Linked DNA regions of Homo sapiens. The protein of the gene in region 1 interacts with the protein of each later gene in a biochemical or structural test. Each region holds a gene or a part of one and is shown in the gene's direction. Other genes may lie near its edges.

Evidence for each region.
Region 2: the proteins of DAB2 (region 1) and DAB2IP form a complex in vitro, tested with the Homo sapiens proteins (one study listed by BioGRID).
Region 3: the proteins of DAB2 (region 1) and APLP1 form a complex in vitro, tested with the Homo sapiens proteins (one study listed by BioGRID).
Region 4: the proteins of DAB2 (region 1) and DVL1 form a complex in vitro, tested with the Homo sapiens proteins (one study listed by BioGRID).

The regions. Positions count from the first base shown.
Region 1 is NC_000005.10:39,421,960-39,428,855, reverse strand, and holds the start of DAB2 (disabled homolog 2), read left to right. Parts: upstream 1-3,875; 5' UTR 3,876-4,052; intron 4,053-6,896. UniProt on the Homo sapiens protein: Adapter protein that functions as a clathrin-associated sorting protein (CLASP) required for clathrin-mediated endocytosis of selected cargo proteins.
Region 2 is NC_000009.12:121,759,613-121,766,633, forward strand, and holds part of DAB2IP (disabled homolog 2-interacting protein), read left to right. Parts: intron 1-272; coding exon 273-827; intron 828-3,892; coding exon 3,893-4,037; intron 4,038-4,122; coding exon 4,123-4,267; intron 4,268-6,881; coding exon 6,882-7,021. UniProt on the Homo sapiens protein: Functions as a scaffold protein implicated in the regulation of a large spectrum of both general and specialized signaling pathways.
Region 3 is NC_000019.10:35,864,068-35,871,573, forward strand, and holds the start of APLP1 (amyloid beta precursor like protein 1 isoform 1 precursor), read left to right. Parts: upstream 1-4,506; 5' UTR 4,507-4,569; coding exon 4,570-4,716; intron 4,717-5,024; exon of another isoform or gene 5,025-5,290; intron 5,291-5,599; coding exon 5,600-5,743; intron 5,744-6,828; coding exon 6,829-6,961; intron 6,962-7,169; coding exon 7,170-7,282; intron 7,283-7,506. Other genes in the region: KIRREL2 (kin of IRRE-like protein 2 isoform c precursor), read left to right, coding at 581-646, 2,090-2,425. UniProt on the Homo sapiens protein: May play a role in postsynaptic function. The C-terminal gamma-secretase processed fragment, ALID1, activates transcription activation through APBB1 (Fe65) binding. Couples to JIP signal transduction through C-terminal binding.
Region 4 is NC_000001.11:1,339,398-1,346,418, reverse strand, and holds part of DVL1 (segment polarity protein dishevelled homolog DVL-1), read left to right. Parts: intron 1-3,660; coding exon 3,661-3,730; intron 3,731-3,934; coding exon 3,935-4,056; intron 4,057-4,262; coding exon 4,263-4,366; intron 4,367-4,613; coding exon 4,614-4,752; intron 4,753-5,915; coding exon 5,916-6,009; intron 6,010-6,102; coding exon 6,103-6,172; intron 6,173-6,240; exon of another isoform or gene 6,241-6,241; coding exon 6,242-6,381; intron 6,382-6,606; coding exon 6,607-6,683; intron 6,684-6,710; exon of another isoform or gene 6,711-6,769; coding exon 6,770-6,837; intron 6,838-6,979; coding exon 6,980-7,021. UniProt on the Homo sapiens protein: Participates in Wnt signaling by binding to the cytoplasmic C-terminus of frizzled family members and transducing the Wnt signal to down-stream effectors. Plays a role both in canonical and non-canonical Wnt signaling.

The DNA.
Region 1 (6,896 bases):
TCATTCTCCATTGACAGGCATATTTTGTCCTAGCTTCCTGCTGCTATAAATGATACAATTAACAACCTTGGGGGCAGGGAGTGGTGGCTCATGCCTGTAATCCCGGCAATTTGGGAGGCCGAGGCGGGTGGATCATGAGACCAGCCTGGCTAAGATGGTGAAACCCCGTCTCTACTAAAAATACAAATACAAAAATTAACTGGGCATGGTGGTGGGCACCTGTAATCCCAGCTACTCGGGAGGCTGAGGCAGAGAATTGCTTGAACCCGGGAGGCGGAGGTTGCACTGAGCCGAGATCTTGCCACTGCACTCTAGCCTGGGCCACAGAGCAAGACTCCATCTCAGAAAAATAAAAAAAAAAAAATCCTTGCATATTATACATGTGCTTTATTTCTAGTGGATAGATTCTTACTCCTAGGATAGAGAAGTGTATGTGTTTGCTACAATAACAATTAATATTAGTAATTCCTGCAGGGTTTTATGTATTTTCATTTTTGATAACTCCTGCTAGGTTTCTTTCCAAGTAAGACAGTATTTATTTGAATGGTAATTTTTATGGGTATTTACTTGCCTTTCACAATTTCTCATTATAAAAATTTATATTGATAAGTGAGGTGTAATTAGTTATATACATTTATATTATTGAATTTTAAATGTTCTTCATTTTACAAGTACCAATTTTTCCAAGTACCCTAGTAGTCTACCACCTGAGTTTCATTAAAATTGCACAAAACAGAAAAATACATATTAGTTCTGAGATGCTATAGGGGTATAAGCAAGAAAACAAAACACAAACAGGCTGCCTTCTATGAAACTATCTTCCAAATATTTTAGATCAGAAGATGGACAGGTAGATGGATAGACAGAGATATGAAAAAAAACCTCCAGTATTTGTTTTGACTTGCCAGCCACCAAATCTGGTAGGGTCAGTTTTTCTGTAATGTTAAATATGCAGGACTGGTCAAGGTCAAAGAACATTTTCTGGGAACAATAGCCATTCTCTTCATTGTTTTTTTAATGACATGGAGAAGGAAAAAAAAAAAAGGAGAGAGAGAGAGATGTGACCTTACTAGGTCCACTTCAACAAATCCTTGTTTGATTTTAACATCTCTAAGTGTCCAGCAAGGCATCAAAGGCACACAGGCAGTTTACCTTACAGCCAGTTCCAAAGTGCCATTTACAATTCAGGAGAAATGACAGGCTTCAAAAGGGGCAGTTTAAGGAAGACAAGAGCAGTAGAGAGGGGGATAGAAGAAGTGATGGAGAAGGAGGAGAGAAAGGATAAAGGATTAGGTCTGTGAGCTAACAGAGGAAAACAGCTTAATTATGGAAGAAAAGACACATGCATAGGATAGGTCGAACAGGCAGAGTTGCTGTGGAAGCACATTCCAGGAAAATCTTAAGAGATTACTTTAATAATAAACCATGCATTCTTCAGCAAGCCATCACGGGATTAACTACCCCTTTCCTAGGCTGGGAGCACAGTCATTTGTTTTATTTTATTTTTTCCTTCTCTCTCACAGGCAGGTTTTCTGCAACGGACAATTGCCATTCAAAGACTATTGTTTTTCAAACATTGAACTGACTTTTCCTCCCCTTAATTTTCTAAACATAAATTTCAGTGGTGATAAGAAAAGACCATTATTTAGGCAGGGTAAATATCTGGGTGGGCTTTGGCGTGATTCTCCAGAGGGAAAGATGTTCATTTTAGACTTGTTGAAAAGTGAACAACTTAGATGAGACAGAGACAATGTTTCACGAGGGATAAAAAGAGTTAAATTTCTTTTCTTTTTTTTTCTTAATGTGAGCAGGACATTGAATTACTGCCAGAAGCAATATCGGTGCCCTAGAGATATAAAAATACAGTTCAAACCAGAATTCTCCACTGTCGACTCTTCAGATTTCTGTGCAAAATAAGAGGTGTCTATTTTAAGTTGTAAGTGTGAGCCCACTGCTCTTAAATGAACTGTTTTCATCAAAGTCTTCTCTTGAAACTACAACTCATAGCAGATGAAATCATTTTCTTCCTCTGGCTTCTTAGACAAATCCCTTCCATTTGGTGGGGTAGAGCAAACATAAGTTAGTATTTCTTGGTAAGAGTCTTTCAAAAAAAAAAAAAATAGAATTGAGTGAGCACTTCTTAGTCTAGAAAATATTACATATTGAGGTTAAAAGAGACACCCATGTCTTTCTAATTATCAAAGTCTCTATTTGCCTGAAGTCAGCAGCCCTTTTTCCAGCTACCTAGCCAATAGAAATGAAACTGGACTTCTAGATTTTAGAAACAAAGCCTTGTGTTCTAAAATGTACTAGAATTACATTTCTCTGCATAAATGTTATAAATAGAATACTATCCTAGGACTAAAATTTGTATACTTCCTGTCATTCACACAAAGTCATTTTTTAAAATAGCAAATTACCTCTGAGGAATATTGAAAACTGCCAGCATGGCCCTCCCTGCCTCCACACCCCTAGGTGTGTCAGGGGATGAGAAATAGTAGAGGCTGGGGAAGTAGAATTCTGGGCCAGCTGTGCTGCTCTGCACCCCTCAGTCTCCCCGAACAACGGTTGTTTCAAGCCTGACCTACTTGAGAGCAGACATTGCCACTCACATTGAGCTACCCCAAATTACACAGTGGCTTTGCAGTCGAGGCTAGGCACGGACCACAAAATATATCCTTGATGTCCCACGAGCCCTATTTGAACCCTCAGTTTCCAGAGGTAAAATGCAAATCCACTGTGTTGCTTACTCGATAAAATCAATAACCCCCTCCCATCCGAGATACAATTTAGCATTTTCACATTTACTACGTGCTGCCTCTGACTTTAAACAATTAAATTTTTTTCTTAAAAAAAGGGAAAAGAGACACGTCTTTCACAAGAGTAATTTCAGAATTCTCCAAAAAGCAACAGAGCTTCTGTGGATGTTTTACAATAATTCTTGATTTTAAAATATGGAGAAAATGAATTCTCAGCTTGTTAACACTCATTAGGATTTGCTGCGGAGTACCTTCTACCGCTCAGCACTCTACGTTAACATTTTTAAATATTTTATTTCTTGCAGTTCATGTTTTTCCTAGAGTTATAGGAAGTGCTATGGAAATTCATGCAGATAAAGTCATGTTATGTGTCTACATATAGGTGTATATACACTGTAAGGGAAGCCTGTATAGAATCTCTGATTGTATCAGAATTATAACTTATTTGATAGGCTACATAGACGTGAACATGTTTTGCTCATATCGATTTCAGAGAGAATATTATTTTTATATCCATATATATGATTATATTTCATAGGTAAATACAGTATGTTTCACATATGCACACATAGATTTCCCACTAACTTAAGCGCATTTGCATCTGCAATGAGGGAGACACTAATTTCTTCTAAGGGGAGCAAATCCAATCGCGCGATCAACTTTAGAAACTGCAGATCTGCGCAGGAACCGTTGTCCCTTGTCAGAAAAGTCAGGAGTAAAGGCAGTCCTTTGTTCAAAGGGCCCCAACGGGTTGGTTAGGATGACTCCGTGTGCCACATCACTCGCAGTGGCAATCCAGGGAACGGATCTGTGAAACGAAGCTCGGTGGATCCCACCCCTTTCCTCCAGAGCTTCCCTTTCCTGTCCTTATTTGCACCCGCCCCCCGCCCGCGTCGGTCTGGGGCTTTTGACTTCTCCCCGAACACATTTCCCCTCCCGTCGCTGGGTCCCTGCGATCGCCCCCAGCTGGTGGGGCTCGCGGAGCTCAGGGGAGCGGGGTCCTCTGCGCCGCTGCAGCGCGAGTTAATAAACAGTTAAGTTTGGAAGACTCTGCAGACACGTTGAGGGGGAGTTACCAAGCCCAGGCAGCAAAAACATCCTGGCACATTCCTGGGGAGTCCTCAGCTGCCAGCATCTGATTAGAACCATATCTCTCGCCGGGAGTGGCCGCGCGGCTCCGAAGCTCCCGGCCGGCGGCTATTTAAGCGAGGCCCGCCGCATCCGCTGCGCTGTAGCCTGGAGGCTCCGGGCGCGGGGAAGTCATGCTCGCTTCACGGAGGCAATAGCTAGCCGGTGAGTAGCTTCGAAACCCTTCTTCCCTCTGGCTCCATTTTTTTTTTAAAGATCTCCTTCTCTCCTTTGCTCCCCCTCTCTCACCCCCCCGCCCCCCGCTACCCTTCTTTGAGTACAGACCTTGGGCTGTGGGGAATCTTAGAAATGAGACCCTGTGCTTGGGGAAACCAGCAGTTTTGTGGCCTGACATCTGAGGAATGCTTCCGCGGAATGTATTTACCTTTCGAATCCGACTCCAGATGCCCAGCTTGTGACATTTAACAAACGCCTCCTTTTGTGTCGTGTGTGTGTGTGTGTGTGTGTGTGTGTGTGTGTGTGTGTGTGTGTGTGTGTAAAAGGTCTGCGGGCAGCCCTCCTAGGACACTGAGGTGGCTGCTGACCGCCTAATTAACTCCTCGAAGGGTGTTTATTTTTGCTGTGTGACAAAGGCTGGGGACCTGGCTTGTGCCCATAAGGAGCTTTTTCCTGGTGACTGACAACATATGGCATTAAAATGTGAACTTTTGTCTTACACCGGCATTCCTAAGGAAGTATCTACCCAAGGGACTTAAGAAACTTGTTTTATATCCCCCGGCGCAGGGAGCATGGTTTATATGGTGCTTGCCTGCCTGTTGTAAGCTGGTTAAAAAGATTAAGTAAGAATTCTAAAAAAGGGGGGAAAAATGAATGGGTTAAAACCGTGGAGCCTCAGTCAACATAGCGGTTTTCATAGCATAGAGCTGACTCTGTTATTTGTTTCTGCTGTCTTTCCCTCTTGACTTAATTCTGAGCCTGGAATTCTGGTCCGCAGACAGTTTCAGCAGGGAGCTGAGTCCAAAGGGAAATTCAACTGGATTAAAAACACTTAAGGAATCTGGGTGTTATCTCCACCCCAACCACCCCCCACCTTTTCCCCTTTCTTTTTAGTTTTTGTTTGGAAGGAAGAGAGCCGCTCTGTAAACCGAGAAGAGCAGAAACAAGCTTCCAGACACATGGAAAGACTTAAAAATTATGGAGGGGCGACTTCACGAATAGTAAATGTTGCTATTGCTCTATAAAGTGACTTCATGAAAAAATTTCTGGCCTTAGTCAGGCAAAGCAGGGGCATGGGGGAGAAGGAGGTAAGATATAACTAATGCAAACAGAAGTAATGGGAGTGGAAAGCAGGCATCTACAAAAAATGCCTTTGAGATGTCTGATAAGCCTCTTGGAATGGCTTTGATGAGATGTATACTTGATTGTCCTTACAGTCTTGAGGTTGGCTTCTCACACAAAAGCACCTACTGGCTGTTGGGGAGGAGGGAGCTTGCAGCTACCAAATGGCTTGTCACCATGCTTCTTACCCCAGCAGCCAGACTTTGGGAGGCTACTTTTCTCTGAGCCAGGTGCCCCGCCCACTCCAGGTTCTGTGTCTCCCCTCTTGGAAGGGAGATGGCCCTCAGTGACACTGTAAGAAAGTTTATTGCCTTGAGAATTCGGGAGTATTTGAGTACAATGGGAAAGTCTTCTAGAGAAAGCATGAAGAAGACCTAGTGGTCTTTGCCAATGTGGATTTCTGGGACAGACCACTTCTTCCAAATCCTTAGTCAGTTTCCTCCTAAGGCCAACTAAATTCTTTTTCCTGTTGTTGGTGAATAACTTCCCCCTTCTTTTCCCACTCCCAGCTGGAAGGATCCCTTCTCATCCAAATGACTGACCTAGAAACCAGTCATTTTTCAGCTATGCCCTCCTATGCTTTAATGTATAACCAGAATAAGTAGATGGTAGAGGAATGTCTTCCAACTTTGAGCCCATACACGTATGTATTTGCCATTCTGGGGATCTTTGATCTTGATGGTTGATCTTTACCTGAGGATGTAAGTGAGGGAAGAAAGCACTTGTTACAAACCTTGTCTAATTTGTGAAGGGCAAACTCCAGAGTTTGTGTTTCTGCTAAAGACTTTTATAGTTTCAGATTAAACTGGAAGTCCAAATTCCTGTGCATTAGGCCTGTTTGTTGTCTTTCTCCAAAGGTTGAATGGATTTCACTGGCCTTGTTTGGGTTGAAGGGTACGGCTTTTAAGGCACTTGTTGGCATGAAGGTAGTACAGGGACCTCTGGCAGCTGCTGACCAGCTGTTTGGGGATGATATTTACTGGCCTGCTCAACCAGGCCTCGATTATCTGAAGGTTAAGGGAGCAGGAAGATATCTTCCTTGCTGAGTGCTCCTGGCCAAGCAGGAGGCTTTGCTGTGACATAGGCTCTTATGCTGCTTCATTTCTAACTCTACCCTCATATGTCCATAAACCTAAGTTTGCTACCACTGATATTTCATCTGGATAATTTTGAAGGCTCTGCGTGTTTCTCTTCCTCATTCTTTTGACCTGAGGATTTAATTATTGCTCTTCTTAAAGACAAAGCCAAGATGCTGAAATGCTTGGGAAAGCTGCTGAGAGTGAGCCCTCCTGGGGTTTGAAGTTGTCCTAATGCTCATCAGAACATACCTCCCCAGCTGGAAAGATTCGAAAGCTTACTGGCCAGGAAGGTTTAGGTAACTAACCAAACACATAAGGTTTTTTACCCTTTAGACAGAACCAGAATGGGAACCAGATTGGCAATATGAAACACCTGAGTAACAGGATGTGGTATTTTAAAATTCTCCCTGGCACTGCTATGTAATTCCAAAGTTGAAGCTGTGCCGCTGAATTGCACAAAGGTTGGCCAAAATCATATTTAGGTGAAACAGATTTTTGTTTTGTTTTGTTTTGTTTTGTTTGAGACAGAGTCTCCCTCTGTTGCCCATGCTGGAGTACACTGGCATGAACTTGACCCACTGCAGCCTCTGCCTCCTGGGTTCAAGAGATTCTGTGACCTCAGTCTCCTGAT
Region 2 (7,021 bases), on another chromosome or scaffold:
GGGGGTTTTACCTTAGTGCCGTTTCATAGACAAGCAACCCAAGGCTCCAGTTAAGTTGCTTGCCCAAGGTGAGTGAGCTTCTGTGAGGTCGACCAGAGATCCAGCCCTTGTCCATCATGCCCTGCCTCATCCTGACTTAGGGCCTAGGCGCCCGCTGCCGCCTCCACCTTCAGAGCTCCTCCTGGGTCTGAGGACTCTCTCAGGCTCTGGGCTGGTTGGGGGTTGCACGTGGCACCCCCAGCTGACCACCCTGGACCCCCGTGCACATACAGGACAACAGCCGGCGTGTGGAGCACATCCTGAAGCTGTGGGTGATCGAGGCCAAGGACCTGCCAGCCAAGAAGAAGTACCTGTGCGAGCTGTGCCTGGACGATGTGCTCTATGCCCGCACCACGGGCAAGCTCAAGACGGACAATGTTTTCTGGGGCGAGCACTTCGAGTTCCACAACTTGCCGCCTCTGCGCACGGTCACTGTCCACCTGTACCGGGAGACCGACAAGAAGAAGAAGAAGGAGCGCAACAGTTACCTGGGCCTGGTGAGCCTACCTGCTGCCTCGGTGGCCGGGCGGCAGTTCGTGGAGAAGTGGTACCCGGTGGTGACGCCCAACCCCAAGGGCGGCAAGGGCCCTGGACCCATGATCCGCATCAAGGCGCGCTACCAAACCATCACCATCCTGCCCATGGAGATGTACAAAGAGTTCGCTGAGCACATCACCAACCACTACCTGGGGCTGTGTGCAGCCCTCGAGCCCATCCTCAGTGCCAAGACCAAGGAGGAGATGGCATCTGCCCTGGTGCACATCCTGCAGAGCACGGGCAAGGTGAAGGTGCGTGCAGGCCCCTCGGCTCCTGACACAGGCTGGGCGGCAGCACTGGGTTACCTGCCCTTCCTCACATCCGTACATTTCAGGCCTAACAGAGGCCTTGGAGGCACCGGTCACTACCAGAAGGGCTCCCTAAACCCAAAAGTTCTATCGTGGGCTGGGGGTTTTGTACTCCTGCTCTGTGGCTGGAGCTGATCACTGAGGCCTGTGTGGAGCCAGTGGATGGGATTGCAGCTGGTAGTGAGGGAGTGGGCTTGGGTTGAGGTGCCTTCCACCACTGCTGCAGAGGACCGACCCCCTGAGGCGCCAGGGGAACAGGCTGGGTGGCCACGGCTCTCCCAGCACACAGGTCCCACAACGCCACCAGCCGCAGTGAGCCAAACACACGTCCCCTGTGGGGTATGGAGTTCGGCAGACCTCCCCAGCACGATGCACAGATGAGCCTCCCTCACAGCTCTACCTCACCCCACACTCTCACCCAGACACACAGATTGTCACACAGGTAGACACAGTCAAAATTGTACTATTCGAGGGTTAGCCAGCCCCACCCCAGAGCCTCACAGAAGCGGGAATCGTCTGAGACCCACCCAGGCAAGTCCTAGTTCAGGGCCAGAGGTGCTCAATGTCCATCTCCATGACCCCTTTCACCTTCCGCTCCCGAAGATGGGCCCAGCAGCCCACCATGCAAGCCGTGCCTCAGCCCCACCTACCCGGTTTGGGGACAAATGGGCTCCTGGACCAGGGTGCCCCTAGGAAGGCAGTAGAGCATGGTCTGTGGGCCTCGAAGGCGACCTTCTCTCTTTACATTTGCCACCTGCCATTCAGGAAGCTGGCCAAAGAGGGTGGGAAAAAGGGGCTGGACTTGAGGCCTCTGCAGCGTGGATGGACCCTGGTGCTGGGCTAAGGACTGGGCCTCTGCCCTCTGGACAGTGGCGTGTTGTGAGCCAAGTGGCAGGTGGCTGAGGGGCACCCTGTGTCAAGGTCCTAGGCCCTTAGCTCTGGGTCGGGGAGGCACAGTTGGGAGCCATACCCCAGGGCAGAGTCCAGGGCACAAGACTCGTGGAGGTCCCTCACCCTCTCACCTGTTCCTAGAGGCCCTGGAAGGGGAGGCCATGGCTGGAAGCCTCAGCAGCCTCTGCAGCCCCCCTCCCTCTTGCACTTGCTGTATGCTGCAAGTGCAGGGCTGGGGCGGGGACCTCCTCCCCATGGACCCGCGATGGGGAGCAGTTTTCCTCTGTAGTGCTCAGCTACCTCCTCCCTCACCTTCTCCCCCAGCCTTCAGACTTGGCTGGCTAGGCTGCACGTTGGGCCAGCTCTGGCTGCCCCGTCCTTAACATGCTGGTCAACACTGGGGACGTATGCTGGGAAACGGAATGAATCAAGGACCCATGGGCACCAGAGAGGGAGTGATGGGGGCTGCAGAGGCTGCATTATTTTCTGCAGTTGTGTCTGATGTTTCAGTACCTGGTTCCCAGGGCTGGGCTGGGGCTGGCCTGGGAAGCGGATTCCTCCCTGAAGCAGCCTGAAATGATAGGTATGTCCAGGTGCTCGTGGAGGGAGGTGAAGTCAGGGCTGCAGCCAACCCCAAAGGCCCTCAGTGGGATTGGGGAGCAGTAGATAGAAGCATAGAAAGTAACTTGTGCTGCTGGGGTGACAGGTACCTAAGCCCCCACCCCTGGAATACTTGGGAACTAGCCCCTCTTCCGTCTCCACGGCTAGAGGAGTAACGGAGTCTGGGAAGCAAGGGACTTGGACCAGATCTGGCCCCAGGTGGCTGTGTGGCCTTGGACAAGTCATTTTCCTGCTGTGTGTGCATTGGTTTCCCCCTTATTGGGTCCTGGCTCTCAGGAAGTTCTCATCCCAGCACTGGGGCCTGGCTCTCATTGCGGGAGTTCAGGAAGGCTGCAGTCCTGAGCGGGAGCCCTGGAGGAGCCCCGGGGGAGATGCACCTCTGACCCCCGCTTTAGTGTATTCAGAGAATGAGACCCTGGAGGTCGCCTGCTGGTCAGGAAGGGGTCCTCAGGCCACATGATCCCCAGGAAGCCAATGACAGCTTCCCCTTTGCCCCTGCTGTCCCTCTGTGCCTCTGCTGTGCACCCTGGGTTCCTGTGTCTAGATCTCAGTTCTGTTTTAAAGGACCCCAAGGTCGTGCATGTCGGAGTGAGGAATTTCTTGAGCACAGATGCCTGGGTCCACCCCTCCTGGGCACCTTGCAGGCTCTGTGCTAGGTGGCCCCCTGCCCTGACTGTCACCCTCCCTTGAAACTATGACAGTTTTTCCTATTTTCTTCCCCTCCCCCAAGCCACAGGTTAGTTGTGAGCACAAGGAGGTGGGGGCTTCTGAGGGAGGGTGTTAGTATCTGCATGGTTGCTAGAGTAGGGGGAAGGTGTGGGTTCGGGCTCCTGTGCTGGGGTTTTCCCACAACACTGTGTGTGGGACCTGATGGGCCTGGGGCTGCTACCCTGGATTGCCAGGTGGGCAGTGGCGCCTCCACCTTCCCTCTCCAGCCAGTTGCACATCACTTCCTGCTCTCACCTGCCTGAGCATGGTGGCTCACGACCTCCCCGGGCAGTGGGGCTGCACAGAAGGCATCTGTGTCTGGTGTGGGAGCCCCCACCAGAGTCATAGGTGGATACTGATGGCCATTCTTACCATGAGACAGGGCAGCCTCATTTGTCCTCTTTGGCACTGATGGTGCGGGGAGAGGCGAGTCCTGCTGTGGTCACCAGGCCAGGCCTGATCAGGGCTGTACATGGAAATGAGTCCATTCTCTGTGGTGGTGGGGGCTTGTGGCTCCACGTGGCATGCTCTCATTCAGGCTGCCTCCATCCATAGACCCGGCTCTACTGTCACCAGTTCTAGGCTCCTACCCTGGCTGGGGGCCCCTGCCCTGCCCACACTCCCCAGCAGCCCCCAAAGGTGGGCACACTGTTCCTCTCCGGGACCCCCGCAGCTTGGTGATGGAACAGCCTCAAAATGCCAGGACTTCTCTGGCTAGGTCTGGAATCCTAGGGCCCTCCATGCCAGGCCAGCTCAGGTCCTGCTCTCTCCACCTCCTGCCTCCCCAGGACTTCCTGACAGACCTGATGATGTCAGAGGTGGACCGCTGCGGGGACAACGAGCACCTCATCTTCCGGGAGAACACACTGGCCACCAAGGCCATTGAGGAGTACCTCAAGCTAGTGGGCCAGAAGTACCTGCAGGACGCCCTAGGTAGGGAGTGGGCCAGCAGCAGGGCAGAGGGTGGGGCAGGGCCCGCCAGGTCCTCACTCCCCACTCCCTGCCCACTTGTCCATAGGTGAGTTCATCAAAGCGCTGTATGAGTCAGATGAGAACTGCGAAGTGGATCCCAGCAAGTGCTCGGCCGCTGACCTCCCAGAGCACCAGGGCAACCTCAAGATGTGCTGCGAGCTGGCCTTCTGCAAGATCATCAACTCCTACTGGTCAGTGCGGTGCCCAGGTCTCCCCACCCTGTCGCCTTCCCCATCCTGTCCTTCAGTGTCTGGCACCCGCAGTGTGCCTGATGCTGCCTGGCCCCTGAGTTGTACTGACTTGCCAGTCCCCTGGCCTAGTCCCTTTTGAGCTCTCAGGTGGGGCAGCGTTCAGCATGTTGCTGTGGTTTTGTGATGGAAAGAACCTGGACACGCCAGTCTGCCGTCTCTGGTGATGAGGGAGCGCCCTTCATGTGCCGGGGGCTATTGTGGGTGCTTGGGCTGCAGCGGGAGTGAGACTGGCAGGCCCTGTGTGGGCCCCCACTTGGGGTGGGCGGATGGCTTCACCTGAGGCTCCTCACCTGTCCGTGGGAGCTAAGGTGCTCATGTCACAGCCTTGTGATGGGGCCAAGCAGGGGCACGTTGGGGGCCTGAGCACCAGGCAGGCCTCTTGCTGGGACTAGAGAATAAACAGAAAGGACTAGACTTTGAAGTAGAACGGGGTCTGCAGACTCTGCCAGCCCCAGAAAGCAGCAGGGCATGCAGCAGTGGGCTGCTTAGACAGGCCCCTCAGCAGGACCGGAATCAGTCCCGGAGAAACTTGCGGTAAGGCCGACTTCACGGCCACCAGCTTGCTCCTGGGATATATGTGTGTGATGGCCAGCCAGCCTGGTGCCGAGTATAGCCTCGTTCTGTGGTGGCACACAGGACTGTGCGGGAGGGCCTTGCTGTCAGCCCAAGCAGTGGGTTCATATTCACCCCAGAGGAGCTGCCCAGGTTTAACCTGTGTCCCCCTCCAGCTCAGGGCTTACAGCCCCCACCCACCCAAGCCTCCGTCCACAGCCTGTTCTGACACCACTCTCTCCCCGGCCTTACCTCACTCCTTGTTAGGTTCATCTCTTTCACTCACCTGCACCTTCCCCTGCATACACTCCTGCCCTTCCTGCTCCGAGGCCACACCTGGTACCCTCTGTCGCAGCCCTGATCCCATCAGGATAGGGTTGTGCCTGTGCCTAAAACATTTCCTGTGAATGCTGGGGCACCCTGGGGGCAGGTGAGCCCACCACCTCAGGACTGGGCACACAGGAAGGCCAGAGAAGTGTTTGCTGCTCCCCAAGGACAAGAAAAGGCAGGGGGAATGGGCAGGCCAGGAGGGTTGGCACCCAGGGCCTTAGCCCCTGGGCTATACAAGGTGCTTGCCTGGGCCAAATGGGCACCTCAAGATGGGCCACAAATGTGCAGCTTTCCACACCCCTGGGCCGGTGGAGGAGAGCGACTGTAGGGCCTTGAACTCTGGGAACACACTTCCCATTCCCAGCTGGGCTGTGCTTTCCCCCTCCCCCTCTTCCAGGGGGGCTGGGCATGTGACTCAGGGAAAACATATTTGTGGACAGTGATTTTCCATTTCCTCTTTCTGGCATTTATCAGAGGCACCTCTCCATTCTGGACAAGGCCATTGATAGATGTCACCACTCAACACCTGCCCCCTGTCCAGTTCTGTGCCAGGCACTGTGAGAGCCACGGCTAAAGGTGGCTCACCTTCATTCCCCGCTAGGTGTGCCCTTGATGGGTCAGCCAGCATGCATTGCAGGAGAGCCTGCTGAGCAGGCTGCTGGGCCTGTGGGGGAAGAAATTTCAAGTTGGTCAAGCCTGTTGTAGCCTTGGGGTTTTAGCCTTACGATGGCTCTGTGAGCTTGGCAGGGCAGGCCTTGCTCTCAGTTTAGGGGAGAGAAAACCCAAGCCTTCCAGGAGGGCTAGGGCCTTGGTCAGATCACCCTGAGCTCATGGCAGAGCCAAGTGTAGACTGAGTTCACGGACCACTGGGGCCTGGCCTGCCCCAGGCTGGGAGATGCATCTTTTAGGGAAAAAAGATAGGAAACCCACTTAAGGGTTGGCCAGGTGGGCCTGACCATGGCAGGCCAGGATGCCCAGTGGAACCAGGAGCCCCATTGTCTAGGGCCAGCTCTGCCGGCTTGCTCCATCACCCTGGGGCAGTCACTACCTCCCTTTCCCTCCCCATGTAGAGAATGGAGAGCTGTGTTGTCCCACCGTGTTCAGGGGTAGTCCCATCTTCTTGATCTTTCTGAGCTTTTAGGAAATCCTGGATTCCTGTGACATTATTCAAGCAAAGGAAATTAGTCTCAAAGCCAGTGATGGGAACCCAAGGAATAGTGGTCTATTCCTGTTTTCCTCACTTCCCCCTAGACCCAGATGCCTGCTGTTTGGGTTGAAAAATGAAGTAGACACTGGCAGAGAGGTGGGGAGGGCCCAGACCAGAAGCTGGAGAGGTGGTTCAGCACTGGCCCTTGGCAGTTAATTCCGGTTAGGACGGAGAGCCAGCTCCTCATGCCTCCTCCCATCCCACCTGCCCGGCCCTTCACTGAGAACCCACTGCCCGATGGGAGCCTGGGTCTCCCTGCTCCTCCTCCTGCCTGGGCACTTGCTCCAGCCACCCTGTATTGACTGCTCTCCCCAGATGGCTGTGTCCTCAGAGCTCAGACAGCGGGGCTGACCTCACGCAGCTGGCGGGGTAGAGCCAAGGTTGGAATGCAGGTTCCTGCTCTGTGCACTCCTGTCCTGGGCCCCTGCCTGACAGCCAAGCCCACCTTTGTCTGTCCCTACACAGTGTCTTCCCACGGGAGTTGAAAGAGGTGTTTGCCTCGTGGAGGCAGGAGTGCAGCAGTCGCGGCCGCCCGGACATCAGTGAGCGGCTCATCAGCGCCTCCCTCTTCCTGCGCTTCCTCTGCCCAGCCATCATGTCGCCCT
Region 3 (7,506 bases), on another chromosome or scaffold:
CCCGGCCAAGGGCTCTAGTCTTAACAGTGACCCCACACCCAAATGTCACCCAAGTCCATGCCCCTGACCCAATTATTCCCTAGGCCCAGTATGTCCCCACAGCCCGTTTTTGTTGTTGTTGTTGTTGTTGTTGTTGTTTTTGAGATAGAGTCTTGCTCTGTCGTCCAAGCTGGAATGCAGTGGTGCAATCCAGACTCACTGCACCCTCCACCTCCCAGTTCAAGTGATTCTCGTTCCTTAGCCTCCTGAGTAGCTGAAATTACAGGTGCCTGCCACCATGCCTGCCTATTTTTTGCATTTTTAGTAGAGACAGAGTTTCGGCATGTTAGCCAGGCTGGTCTCAAACTTCTGGCCTCAAGTGATACTCCTGCTGCGGCCTCCCAAAGTGCTGGGATTACATGCATGAGCCACTGTGCTGGCTTCTTACAGCCCTTTTATTGTCCTGAGTGCAGTCCCCAGCTCTTGGGTGCTCTTACTCCCTCCTGCCTGGCCTCCACTGGCTGGCTGAAGGTCCTTGGGGTCTGGCATTGGGGCGGGGGGATCCTCTGACTATTCCCTCTCACTAAGTTCCCTACCCCAGGGCCCCATTGTGCACACTGACCACAGTGATCTGGTTCTGGAGGAGGAAGGGACTCTGGAGACCAAGGTGAGTGTTGAGAGGGGTGGGGCTCCCTTCACTGTTGGGAGAGGCGGGGCTCCCTTCATTGTGTTTCCGTCTCTCTCCCACGCCTGTCCCCTCCTTTTTCCTTCTGTTGTCCTCAGAGTTGGGACTCAGCTCCCCACCCCACTCCTCCTGCCCCCTGGGCCATCTCACTCAGCTCCCAGCCTCAGTTTGCCTGTCTGCAGACTCTTCCCACACATCTGTCCCAGCCCTAGCCTCCATCTGGAGCCCCAGACCAGGGCTCACCCTGCCTGTGCTCTCCTCATCACGGTCAAGCCCCCTTTCAGCCACCAGGTCCTACACTGGCCCCACATCTCCCCAGACTGGTTCTTCCTCTGGGGTCCTACCTCAGGACAGCCACATTGACTCCAGGCCATCCCCAGGCCAGAGCACTTCTCTCTCTCTCTCTCTCCTGCGTACCTAGCACATGCCATTCTCTCTCTTCTTTTTTTTTTTTTTTTTTTTGAGACGGAGTCTCATTCTGTTGCCCAGGCTGGAGTGCAGTGGTGCAATCTCAGCTCACTGCAACCTCTGCCTCCTGGGTTCAAGCCATTCTCCTGCCTCAGGCTCCCTAATAGCTGGCTAATTTTTCTTGTATTTTTAGTAGAGATGGAGTTTCACCATGTTGGCCAGGCTGATCTGGAACTCCTGACCTCAAGTGATCCGCTCGCCCCAGCCTCCCAAAGTGCTGGGATTACAGGCGTGAGCCACTGTGCCCAGCCGACATGCCATTCTCTTGGCCTGAAACACTCCTACCTTCCTTCCCATGTCTACCTAATTCCTTCCTTTAGTCCTCCAGTCTCAGCTCAGACATTTCTTGTTCTAGGAAGCCCATGCTTCCGTCATGACAGCTCGATCATTTTGCCTGTGTTCCACCCATCACAGCCATGACCACTCTGATCTGGGCTTCCTTATCCCACCCACTATGCTGAGGGCTCTACCATCACAGCCCCTGTCATTGCCTATGCCTTTCCCAGGCACAGCCCTGACCCCTCTGGGTACTGTCTCATGATCTGTCATTTTTCCTTTGGTGTGGGATTCTGTGAGGACAGGGTCCAGTTCTATCCTAGTGACATGCCTTGTAGCAGCAACACAGGGTGTGACACTGAATCAAAGCCTAGAGGCTGTTGGGCAGGTGAGTGTCTCTCTCCTGTTCCCTCTGCACCTTCCACACCGACACCCCTCAGCAGGCCTATATCCCTCCGTCTCTACCTTTCTCTGCCTATGTCCTATCCATTTGCCTCTTATCACTGTTCCTCTGTCTCACTTTCTCTCTCTCCCAGTCCATGTGTGTCTCTGTGTCTCTGCCCACTCCTGTCTCTTTTTGTCTCTCTCAAGGTCTGGTCTATTTCAGTGTGTCTCTCCATCAGTGACCCTCATCCCCCCTGCACGCTCACAGACTTTACTGAGTCCCATTTGTCCCCTCAGGACCCAACCAACGGTTACTACAAGGTCCGAGGAGTCAGTGTGAGCCTGAGCCTTGGCGAAGCCCCTGGAGGAGGTCTCTTCCTGCCACCACCCTCCCCCCTTGGGCCCCCAGGGACCCCTACCTTCTATGACTTCAACCCACACCTGGGCATGGTCCCCCCCTGCAGACTTTACAGAGCCAGGGCAGGCTATCTCACCACACCCCACCCTCGAGCTTTCACCAGCTACATCAAACCCACATCCTTTGGGCCCCCAGATCTGGCCCCCGGGACTCCCCCCTTCCCATATGCTGCCTTCCCCACACCTAGCCACCCGCGTCTCCAGACTCACGTGTGACATCTTTCCAATGGAAGAGTCCTGGGATCTCCAACTTGCCATAATGGATTGTTCTGATTTCTGAGGAGCCAGGACAAGTTGGCGACCTTACTCCTCCAAAACTGAACACAAGGGGAGGGAAAGATCATTACATTTGTCAGGAGCATTTGTATACAGTCAGCTCAGCCAAAGGAGATGCCCCAAGTGGGAGCAACATGGCCACCCAATATGCCCACCTATTCCCCGGTGTAAAAGAGATTCAAGATGGCAGGTAGGCCCTTTGAGGAGAGATGGGGACAGGGCAGTGGGTGTTGGGAGTTTGGGGCCGGGATGGAAGTTGTTTCTAGCCACTGAAAGAAGATATTTCAAGATGACCATCTGCATTGAGAGGAAAGGTAGCATAGGATAGATGAAGATGAAGAGCATACCAGGCCCCACCCTGGCTCTCCCTGAGGGGAACTTTGCTCGGCCAATGGAAATGCAGCCAAGATGGCCATATACTCCCTAGGAACCCAAGATGGCCACCATCTTGATTTTACTTTCCTTAAAGACTCAGAAAGACTTGGACCCAAGGAGTGGGGATACAGTGAGAATTACCACTGTTGGGGCAAAATATTGGGATAAAAATATTTATGTTTAATAATAAAAAAAAGTCAAAGAGGCAAGTGTGTCTTAGGGAGTCTACTGGCATTATCACTCTCCACCAAGGAAGGGGTCCCTTAGACCTGTCCCAAGGTCCCTCCTCTACCCTAGCCTATGAGGTGGCTGTAGGAGTAAAACTGTGAGCCACCTCTCAGCCTCTTGCTACCTGCAAAGCACTCTAGGCTCTTTTTTTTTTTTTCTTGAGACAAGATCTGGCTCTATGGCCCACATTGGAGTGCAGTGGCATGATCTCAGCCCACTGCTACCTCTGCATCCTGGGCTCAAGCCATCCTTCCACCTCAGCCTCCCAAGTAGCTGGGACTACAGGTGCATGCCACCACACCCAGCTAATTTTTGTATTTGTTTGTAGACAGGGTTTCACCATGTTGGCCAGGCTGGTCTCAAACTCCTGACCTCAAGTGATCCGCCCACCTAGGCCTCCCAATGTGCTGGGATTACAGGCATGAGCCACTGTGCCCAGCCATGGGCTCTTTTAATATACATCTTCACACACACACACACACACACACACACGCACACACACACATGAGTTGCAAACAGAAAAGACACACACATAGGCATGTATGCACAGACACACGCATAGATGTCCACACAGTTGCACACAAGTGACAGGGCTGCCCCAGGGGTCCTGGGGAAGACTGAATTCTAACTCTCATTAGAGGAGACAAACAAGTGAGCCCTGAAGTGGAGCAGGGAAGGGGAGACTATGGGTAGGAAAATGGCAATCCCCTGGTCCTTACAGCAAGCGTGGAGATCCAGACCCTAATCCTGAGGTGCTGCATCCACAGTGGGCATGGTGCTGGTGCCTGCTTGGATGATCCTTAAAGAAAGGTCCTGGGGGCTTTGGTTCATGGATCCTTGAGCTAGGAGTTAAAGGTCCAGGCCCCTGGGACCCTTGGGAAGCAGAGCAAGAAGAGTGAACTCCTGGGTCTGAAGGAGAATGGGCTGGGGGCTTGGTCTCTGGTCCTGAGAGAGAAGGTGCCCAGACTTCTGGATCTGAAAGAGGAAGGGACTAGGTCTCAACTGCTGCCTTCTTGACTGGGGACATTTTGGAGGCCTGTATTCCTGAGCCCTCAACAGAGGAATGTACTAGGGGATGGGGGTCTCTGATGCTTGCATCCTTGGAAAAGGACAAAACTGTGAGTGTCTGGGTCTAAAGAGGGTGAGAGTCCTGCGGGAGGACTCAAAATCCACAACGGGCGGAGCCCATAGCCGGACTCCTGGCTGGGCCCTTCATGGGGCGGGACGCCTGGAATCTCGAGGGGCGGGGGCCTGGCGCAGGCTCCCGCCCGGGGTTCCCGAGCTGCTCCACTCTGCGCGAAGCCGCCACGCTATTGTCCTGACCAGGAAGGCGGGGCCGGCGCGGGGCGGGGCTGGCGGCGCCGGCGCAGCCCGGGGGCGGCGGGAGGAGGAGGTGGCGGCGGTGGCGCTGGGAGCTCCTGTCACCGCTGGGGCCGGGCCGGGCGGGAGTGCAGGGGACGTGAGGGCGCAAGGGCCGGGACATGGGGCCCGCCAGCCCCGCTGCTCGCGGTCTAAGTCGCCGCCCGGGCCAGCCGCCGCTGCCGCTGCTGCTGCCACTATTGCTGCTGCTTCTGCGCGCGCAGCCCGCCATCGGGAGCCTGGCCGGTGGGAGCCCCGGCGCGGCCGAGGTGAGGCCGGGCCGGGTCCTGGGGGATGGGGGAAGGGGCGGGACCGGGTCTCTGGACGCCGGCGCGGACATGTCCAGGGCAGAAAGCGCGGTCTTTCCAGCCAGGTGGTCAGCCCCCAGGCGCCCCCAATCACATTTATGAACCCAGGGTTCCAGGCCCCAGCTCCCCCATCATGCGACGTCCCAGCCCCCTCCCATCTCGAGCATAGGAACTGGTCTATTCAGAGCCCCTGGTCCCAGAAGTCCAGCCCCCTCTCCAGACCCAGGTGACTCGGCCCCAACCCCCTCCCGCCTGGACATAGGACCCACCAAGCAGCGAGGCATTTAGATCCAATAATCCAGACCCCTTGTATTCTCTGGACCCATATGGAGGCCCTTGCAGCCTCCCAGGACCCAGGAGTCCAGTCCTTCAGTCACCACCCACCCCAACCAGATGTAGCTCTCCAGTCCTCAAGGACCTGGTGTCCAGGACTGTAGGCCCCTGAAGCCAGGCCTTGTCAGCTTTGCATCCTGCAACGGGAGCCTGAGCAAGGGATGGAGGGAGGAGGGGCCAGAACTCCTGGGTTCTGGCCTCCTCCTCCGCGATTCAGGTTTAACCCCTTCGGGCTCCAGAGCGGCTGCGCTGGGGTGGGGGCGGAGTCTGTCTCCGCGGCAACAAGGCAGAAAGAATCCCGGGGGACCCAGGTCGCCATAGCAACGGGAGCGCTGGGGCGCCCCCGCCCTACGGGAGCTGTTTCCCAGGGAACGGTGCCTCCATGGAGGCGGTGTGCGGTGCTTGGGGGAGGGGGCTGGTGCTGGGGGTCTCGGTCCTAGGGAGCAAAGAACCAGGGGACCCTCATGCCAACGCCCCCCGAGCCCTCACTGTCCTTTCCACTTCCATCCAGGCCCCGGGGTCGGCCCAGGTGGCTGGACTATGCGGGCGCCTAACCCTTCACCGGGACCTGCGCACCGGCCGCTGGGAACCAGACCCACAGCGCTCTCGACGCTGTCTCCGGGACCCGCAGCGCGTGCTGGAGTACTGCAGACAGGTGGGCGGGGCCGAACGGGAGAGGCGGGGCCGCCCATAGAAAGCTAGACTTGAAAAAGGCGTGGTCCAGGGTGCTGCGCGATCTAAGGCGTGGAGGCTGGGGGGCGTGGCCAATAAAGAGGCGCAACTATGCTAGGGGCAGGGGACCTGTTTTGAGATACTAAGTCAGGAAAAGGGGAGAGCCGCGAGATAGCCAGAGAGGAAGTGGAATTTAGGAATCTGGTGGTCTTTGTAAAGAGTAGAGGTGTAGGGGGGAGTGGCGAAAGGATAGGCGGGGCTAAGACAGAAAGAGACCTTAAGGACCAGCAAGATGGGGAAAGGGGTGGAGCCCAATGAGAGCGCGGAGAGCTGGGGGGGCGTGGCCATGAAAAGACAAATTTATAACGGGAAGGGAGAGTTTTGGAGAGGCGGAATAGAGGAAAAGGCGGGGCCTAAAGGAGGGTGAGACCTTTGGGGAGACGAATCTGACTGCGGGGAGGGGTGACCAGAGAGGTGGGCTTAGAGGGACCTTCAGAAAGAAACAGCACAGGAAAAGAGATAGGGCTTAAAGATGACGGGACTTTTAAGGGAAAACTGCTAGTGGGCGTGGCCAATGAGCACAAGGAGCTTGGATATCTAAGGCTGGTGCTAGGGAGAAGCAGGGCCTAGGGAAGCGATGTCCTCATGAATACTAGAGCCTTGAAAACGGACCTGGCCGGGCGCGGTGGCTCACGCCTGTAATCGCAGCACTTGGGGAGGCCGAGGCAGGCGGATCACCTGAGGTCAGAAGTTCGAGACCAGCCTGGCCAACACGGCGAAACTCCGTCTCTACTAAAAATACAAAAATTAGCCTGGCATGGTGGTGCGTGCCTGTAATCCCAGCTACTCAGGAGGCTGAGACAGGAGAATCGCTTGAACCTGGGAGGAGGAGGTTGCAGTGAGCCGAGATTGTACCATTCCACTCCAGCCTGGGCGACAAGAGCAAATCTCCGTCTCAAAGAAAGAAAGAAAGAGGGAGAAAGAAAGAGAAAAGGGACCTGACTACTGGAGAGGGGTGGCTGGCAGGGGCGGGGCAGTGGGCTGATTGCCCCCATCTGATCCCCCCAGATGTACCCGGAGCTGCAGATTGCACGTGTGGAGCAGGCTACGCAGGCCATCCCCATGGAGCGCTGGTGCGGGGGTTCCCGGAGCGGCAGCTGCGCCCACCCCCACCACCAGGTTGTGCCCTTCCGCTGCCTGCGTGAGTCCCAGGCGGGGAGAGGGGAACTGAGGTGGGAGTTTCTGAGGGGCAAGGTTCTGAGCCCCTCTCTCAGGCCTACATTAAGGGGCTGGGTGCTTGTGTCCTAAGTGGGGCAGAGAAGCCTCTGAGGATAAAATATCTGGATTCTGAGGAGGGTGGGGTTGGTGGCTATAGGAGGATCTCACCCTGGTGTCCCGTGCTTCCCCAGCTGGTGAATTTGTGAGTGAGGCCCTGCTGGTGCCTGAAGGCTGCCGGTTCTTGCACCAGGAGCGCATGGACCAATGTGAGAGTTCAACCCGGAGGCATCAGGAGGCACAGGAGGTCAGGACGTTGGCCCACCCGTCCCCAGCCCCCACAACCCAGGAACTGGGACCTCTAACACCCTCCGCCACCAGAACCGAGGAGTCTGGGCCACCAGCATCCTCTTCGCACTTGGGATCTAAGAATTTCATCCCCCAACCCCTTCCTCTAGAAGCAGGAATCCAGGCTCCCAGCCTCATCAACCCCCAACCCTGGCAGCCCAGTTCCCCATCTACCCCCTCCCA
Region 4 (7,021 bases), on another chromosome or scaffold:
CTCCGGGTCCCCACTGCTGGGTGCGTGGCGGATGCTGGGCCTGCTGGACTTGGCACCGAGGCTGTCTGTTGGGCACAGCTCCCACAGTTCATCTCCGAGGTGGGGGTGACCCAGGCCTGGGACTGGGGGATGGGTGGAGGCAAGGCTGTGGGCCCAAAGCCCTGGTCCCCAGGGCCGCCTGCCATGGGCCTCGGTGTTGTGACAGCTCCTTGTGTCCTGGGTGGTGCTGTGGGGAGCTATGGAGTTGGGGAGGCTCTGCCTGGCCTGGGCTGTGGGGGGAGTTCCCACTCCGCCCTCCCTGGCTGTGCCACTTGGGGTCTGTGACTCAGCCTCTCTGTGCCCTGAGTGCCTCCCTGGTTTTGGGAGGGTCCAGGCAGTTCACCTACTGCACTCATAGCCATGGCCTAGCAGGGACACTTGAGCCTGTGTGTCCTGAACCGGGGGAGGGGCACAGAGAGATCCCAGGACTCGGCACCACCCAGGGGACAGGCTGGTGGAGAGCCCCTGGCTCTGGGGTCAGGGGTTGGGAGGCCACAGACCCCCAAGGCTGAGGGCCCTGACCTGGGGCGTGCACAGGGGGCTCTGAGGGCACAGGATGGCTCTGCACCGCCTGTCCTGGGCCAGCTACCCCTGCCAGCTTCCTGCTCCGCCTTGGGAGAATGGGGTGCATTCGGGACCACGCCACGTCTAGGGCAGCTGGCTGTGGCCTCTGGGAGTCTGGAGGGTTCTCTGCATCCTGTGTGGCCATGCTGGCTCCCAGGGCGCTGCCTCTGAGTGGATTCCTCCCCGGGGCGGGTCTGTGGGGGCAGCACACAGGTTAGCCAGGCCTCACAGGGAATCCCAAGGTGGGGGCACAGTGCCGGCAGGGGCGCCCCTGGCAGCTGCCGTGAGTTTCAGCGGAGGCTGCTACAGAGGCGCGGGGACCCCGGGTTGTGGGTACGCCCCCAATGCCTGGCCAGCCTCCAGCACCCTCCCCCATCTGGCTGGGGTGGGGACGGCAGGGCTCTGCCTGGGACCTGGGTAGCTGATCCCTGGAGCCCCAGGCAGACCCCACCCTTCCCTCTGTGCTGTTTGGGTCCTGCTCCCTTTCTCCTGGCCCAGCCAGGCTTGGGTCTGCACCCTGCCACTGGGGGCAGGGGAGGACTTGTTACACCCTGTTGGGCTGAAGAGGGCGGAGTGAGTAGGGCCTCTGGGTCCTGGCTGGACATCTGTGAGGGGGCAGGGGGCAGGGACATCCCAGGCAGCCTGGGGTCTTCGTGAGGCCCTGGCTGGGTGGGCCATGCGGGCTTGGGCCACTCTGGATGGTGGGAGGGGGCAGGGCCCTCTTCCGGTGGAGCCAGGCGGGTGCTGTACTGGGGTGCTGGGTGGCCGAGTCTCCCTCCAGTGAGTCAGAGGGTGCTGGGTGGCCGAGTCTCCCTCCGGTGAGTCAGAGGGTGCTGGGTGACTGAGTGTCTCCCTCAGGTGAGTCAGAGGGTGCTGGGGTTGGGTGTGGCAGGGGAGAAGCTGCCGGCCAGGCCACCTGGGGCCGTGTGTCAGGGACTGAGGTGGGGACCCTGCCAGGGGCTCTGCTGTGGTCAGGTCCATTAGAGACAAGGGCTCACTGTGGGCCCTGGCCCCCTGGCGGCAGCTAGTGGTGGCCTCGGTGTCCGTGGGGCCCGCCTCACCCTGGGTTGCTCCAGCCTTTCAGGTGTGACAGCCTCTCACTGTGGCGGCCTCAGCCTGGCATGGGGTCATGGTCTTACCTGGGAAGGCTCCTGTGTGGGGGCAGCAGACGTGGAGGGGTCTGAGAAGTGACCTTCTCTGCTCTTTGGGGGCGTCTACCTCATGGCCTGGCCCTGGGTGGCCTGGGGAGGCAGCTGCAGGACCCCAGAGGGCTAGGTAGGGGTCCCTGCTCCCACCTGGGCTGGCCCTGCCTGCTGTCCACTCTGCCCTGAGGCTTGGGGCCTCTTCCCAGCAAGTGGGTGGGCCAGGGCTTGGGTGAGAGTGTGGGTTTGCCACTTTGCCGGGGGCCTCCTGCTACCTACTGCTTCGGAGTCTGGCTGAGTCAAGGTGCCCCGGGGTCAGGGGACCTGGAGCGGCCAGTCGGGGTGGCTCTGTAGCTCGCAGTGGGACTAGCAGCCACAAGGCCGCTTCCTGCCAGGTGTGCGGCCAGGCCAAGCCCCGTCTCCGGGCTCCTATTTCTCCACTGGGCCCAAGTCCCGGGCGTGGAAAATGCTGCTGGGCAGGGCAGGGTGCCACGAGGCGGCGTCCAGATCCTACCCAGCCTGCTGCCTGGGCCCTCAGAGGTCACAGTGTGAGTGTCGACCACAGCCCTGCCTGCCTTGCTCCTTGGCCTGGGGACCTGCCCCTGCCCAGCCATCCCCTCTGTGCCGTGTGGGTTGCCACCCTGCCCTCTGAACTCTGAGCTCGGGTCACCCGGCCTCCTCCTGGTTCGTGTCCCCTGACCCTCTGCGGCCTGCCTGGGTGCCCTCTGCCCCGTTCCCAAGCCTATCTGACCTGGGGGTGGACTGGTGAGGCACCTGGCCAGCTTGCTCTCCTGGGGGCCCTGCCGGCTCCGCATCCCCTGCTGCCCCTCTAGGTCCTGAGGTGCAGGGAGGTTTGGTGAGTGGAGGTCTTTGTCTCCCTGGCTAGGTGGACAGGACAGGAGGGTGGTGGGCGGCCTCTGGGGACCTGTGGGCCCTCCCAGCCCACCTACGTCCGTCCGTCGGGTCTGAGAGTCCTTGTAGGTGGACTGTGAGCCTGACTAGGGGTGCAGGGCAGGGGTCAGGCAAAGCCCTGCCCTCACAGAGCCTGACCCTGGGCAGGCAGGCACAGGGCCTGGGACCTGAGGCTGCTCCTGAGACGCCAGGAGGGTGGAGTAGGGCCATAGGGCATGGCTGGCATGATGGAGAGGAGGCTGCTGGGGGATTTGGGCTCCTGGTTGGGAATGACAGGTCTGAGTGCAGGGGTGGGTGCAGGTGGCCTGATGCCCTGGCTGTTGAGGGGTGGGCGGCTGGTCTGGAGCTGGCTGGGAGGTGGAGCGGTGGACCTGAGGTCTGGGGCAAGGGACAGGGAATAGCCTGGGGAGCCTTGGGGCCCGGTAGGTGCAGCTGCTGCTGCTGAGGAGGCTGGGGCCTGGCCCTGAGGAGTCCCAGTGTGGGGGAAGCCCTGGGGGGGGGGGGCTCCAAGCCCCAGGAACAGATGAGGTGGGGGTGGTTGGAGACAGCGTCTGGGGCCACCACATACATGAACCGAGGGCAGCTGGGCACGGGGGCTTTCCCAAGGAGGCCTCACCCTAGCTGTCCTCCTACCTGGGGGCTGGGGACCAACGCTGCAGGGGACTGAGAGCCTTTGGCTGAGCTGCCCCTGTGAGGATGTCCACAGCCACTGTCCCCATGCTGGGGGGGTGGGGGCCCAGGATGTGACGGAGAGGAAGGACGGTTCCCGAGAGGAGAGTGCGTTAGCAGGGGTGTCCGCAGAGTGACTGGCCCCATGCTGGGGGGGTGGGGGCCCAGGATGTGACGGAGAGGAAGGACGGTTCCCAAGAGGAGAATGCGCTAGCAGGGGTGTCCACAGAGTGACATTGTGTGGGCAGGAGGAGCGCCTGCTCTCCAGGCCTCACCTCTAGAACCGCAGGGTTGGGCCCCCCAGGTGGGGCCTCACGGCAGCATATGCCCACAGGGTGGTGAAGGAGGAGATCTTTGATGACAATGCCAAGCTTCCCTGCTTCAACGGCCGCGTGGTCTCCTGGGTGAGCCCCTGTGTCTTGGCCCCGAAGGCTCGCCTGGGGAGCATTCCAGGGTGGGGCTCTTCCTGGGGGAGGCGGTGGGTGTGGGGAGGCCCTGGCAGGCTGGGTGCGGATAGGGCAGCTTGCTGGCCCCCTGTTCCCTGGGTGCCCTGAGGAGGCGTCCTGAAGGCGGGTGGGCTCCCCTGAGCATGCCTGCTCCCTCCACAGCTGGTCCTGGCTGAGGGTGCTCACTCGGATGCGGGGTCCCAGGGCACGGACAGCCACACAGACCTGCCCCCGCCTCTTGAGCGGACAGGCGGCATCGGGGACTCCCGGCCCCCCTCCTTCCAGTAAGGACACCGTGGGCGCTGGGCCCTGCTACCCCAAGCCTGTCATGGGGGTTGCTGGCCAACAGGGGAGGGAGGCCTGCCTGGGCCAGTAGGCGGGCGTGGCACCTGCTGGGGCTGGGGTCCCACAGGCGAGGGGAGGCTGGGCTGGGCGGCATCTGAGGGGCTGGGGCCACGGCCTCCCCACCCACCCTGCTCTTGTTGCACAGCCCAAATGTGGCCAGCAGCCGTGACGGGATGGACAACGAGACAGGCACGGAGTCCATGGTCAGTCACCGGCGGGAGCGTGCCCGACGCCGGAACCGCGAGGAGGGTACAGTGGTCATGTCTGCCCAGCTGTGGACCCCCAGCCTCCCTGGGACCCCCATGAGCCATGTTCCTACTACAGCAGTTCCTGTCCCCCAGCCAGTGGCGGTGCTTGGGTGGAGGCACAGGCCCAGCGAGCCTACAGTTGAGCTGCCAGCTCCCAGACCCACAGGCATGCAGCACTGCCCAGGCAGCCCCAAACCCATGACCTCTGGGAGACCCTGCAGTCAGTTCCCAACCTGCTGCCCCCACAGCCGCCCGGACCAATGGGCACCCAAGGGGAGACCGACGGCGGGATGTGGGGCTGCCCCCAGACAGCGCGTCCACCGCCCTCAGCAGCGAGCTTGAGTCCAGCAGCTTTGTGGACTCGGACGAGGATGGCAGCACGAGCAGGTGTGTGGGAGTGTCTGTGGGCGTGTATGCCTGTGTGCCCACTTGCAAATGTCTGTACATGATGTGCATGTGTCTGCATGAGGTGTTTTCACATTGCACGTGTGTGCGTGTGTGTGCATGTGTGTGCCTGCAAATGTCTGTGTACATGATGCACGTGTGCTTGTGCACGTGTTCCACATGAGGTGTTTTCACTGTGCACGTGTGTGCGCGCCTGTGTGTGTGCCCGCGTGCAAACGTGTACATGATGCACGTGTCTGCTTGTGCATGTGTGTCTGTGTGAGGCGTTTTCACATTGCGGATGTGTCTGTGCATGTACCTGTGTGCAAACGTTTATGTACATGATGCGCATGTCTGTGTGTGCATGTATGTGTGTGTGAGGTGCGTTTTCACAGTGTGCACGTGAGCGTTTTCACAATGCACGCGTGTGCGCAGGTGTGTGCATGTGTGCGTGTGCGTGTGTGCAGGTGTGCGTGTGCAGATGTGCGTGTGTGCAGGTGTGCTTGTACAGGTGTATGTGAAGGTGTGCGTGCAGGTGTGCATGTGCAGGCGTGCGTGTGCAGGTGTGTGCAGGTGTGCCTGTGTGCAGGGGTGCGTGTGTGCAGGTGTGCATGTGTGTGCAGGGGTGCGTGTGTGCAGGGGTGCATTGTGCAGGGGTGCGTGTGCAGGTGAGTATGCAGGTGTGCATGTGTGCCTGTGCAGGTGTGTAGTGTGCAGGGGTGCGTGTGTGCAGGTGTGCATGCGTGTGCAGGTGTGCGTGTGTTCATGCGTGCGTGTGCAGGGGTGTGCATGTGTGCCTGTGCGCAGGGGTGCATGTGTGCAGGGTTGCGTGTGTGCAGGTGTGTGTGCAGGTGTGTGCATGTGTGCCTTGTGCAGGGGTGCGTGTGTGCAGGTGTGCATGTGTGTGCAGGTGTGCATGTGTGCAGGTGTGTCAGTAGTGGATCTGGCTACATGTGTCTGTGCCCAGTTTGCCTGTCTCTGGGATTTTCGTGTGTGCTCATATGCATATCACGTGTGCAGGGCCTGGGGCGTGGACGTCAGGCACTGAGCCTGCTTTGGAACAAGCCTGGCCTAGACCCCCGATTCCCACTCAGTATTGGGGGAGCGGGTTCCCACCCCCCTACCCATGTCTCCAGCTCCTCTGAGCTCTGACAGTCTGTTCCCAGGCTCAGCAGCTCCACGGAGCAGAGCACCTCATCCAGACTCATCCGGAAGCACAAACGCCGGCGGAGGAAGCAGCGCCTTCGGCAGGCGGACCGGGTAGGCAGCCGGGTGGAGCAGGGCGGGGCTGGGGAGGCGAAGTCAGTGTCGGGCAGCCCCGTGCCTTTTACACACGCCCCCTCTCCTCCATAGGCCTCCTCCTTCAGCAGCATAACCGACTCCACCATGTCCCTCAACATCGTCACTGTCACGCTCAACATGGGTGAGGCCTCGGGGCGAGGGTTGGGGGCAGGGGCAGGGGCTTGGCCGCGGCTCATGGCTCTTCCTGCAGAAAGACATCACTTTCTGGGCATCAGCATCGTGGGGCAGAGCAACGACCGTGGAGACGGCGGCATCTACATTGGCTCCATCATGAAGGGCGGGGCTGTGGCCGCTGACGGCCGCATCGAGCCCGGCGACATGTTGCTGCAGGTGTGTCTGTGGGGGCTGCGGGGTGACATGTAGCTGCGGGTGGGTCCGTGGGGACTTTGGGGTGACGTGCGGCTGCGGGTGGGTCTGTAGGGGCTGCTGGGGGACATGCGGCTGCGGGTGGGTCTGCGGGGGCTGCTGGGGGACATGCGGCTGTGGGTGGGTCTGCGGGGGCGGTGGACTGAGCTGCACATCCTGCCTGCACCACCCTAATCCCCACCCCTGCAGGTGAATGACGTGAACTTTGAGAACATGAGCAATGACGATGCCGTGCGGGTGCTGCGGGAGATCGTTTCCCAGACGGGGTGAGGGCTGGGGGCGCTGGAGCGGGAGGGGCCAGGCAGGGAGGTGGGACCATGGGGGCCTTGCTGTGTGACCACCGTTCCTGCAGGCCCATCAGCCTCACTGTGGCCAAGTGCTGGGACCCAACGCCCCGAAGCTACTTCACCGTCCCACGGGGTGAGTGGCCCTCGGGGCACACGGGGCGGGATGGGGAGGGGGCGCCTACCTAGCCTGAAGGCCTCTCTCCTCTGTGCCCTGCACCCTGCCCTCCCACCCTGTCCATCTGTCCGCCTGTCATCGCCACGTGGCGGCCACCCAGCTGACCCGGTGCGGCCCATCGACCCCGCCGCCTGGCTGTCCC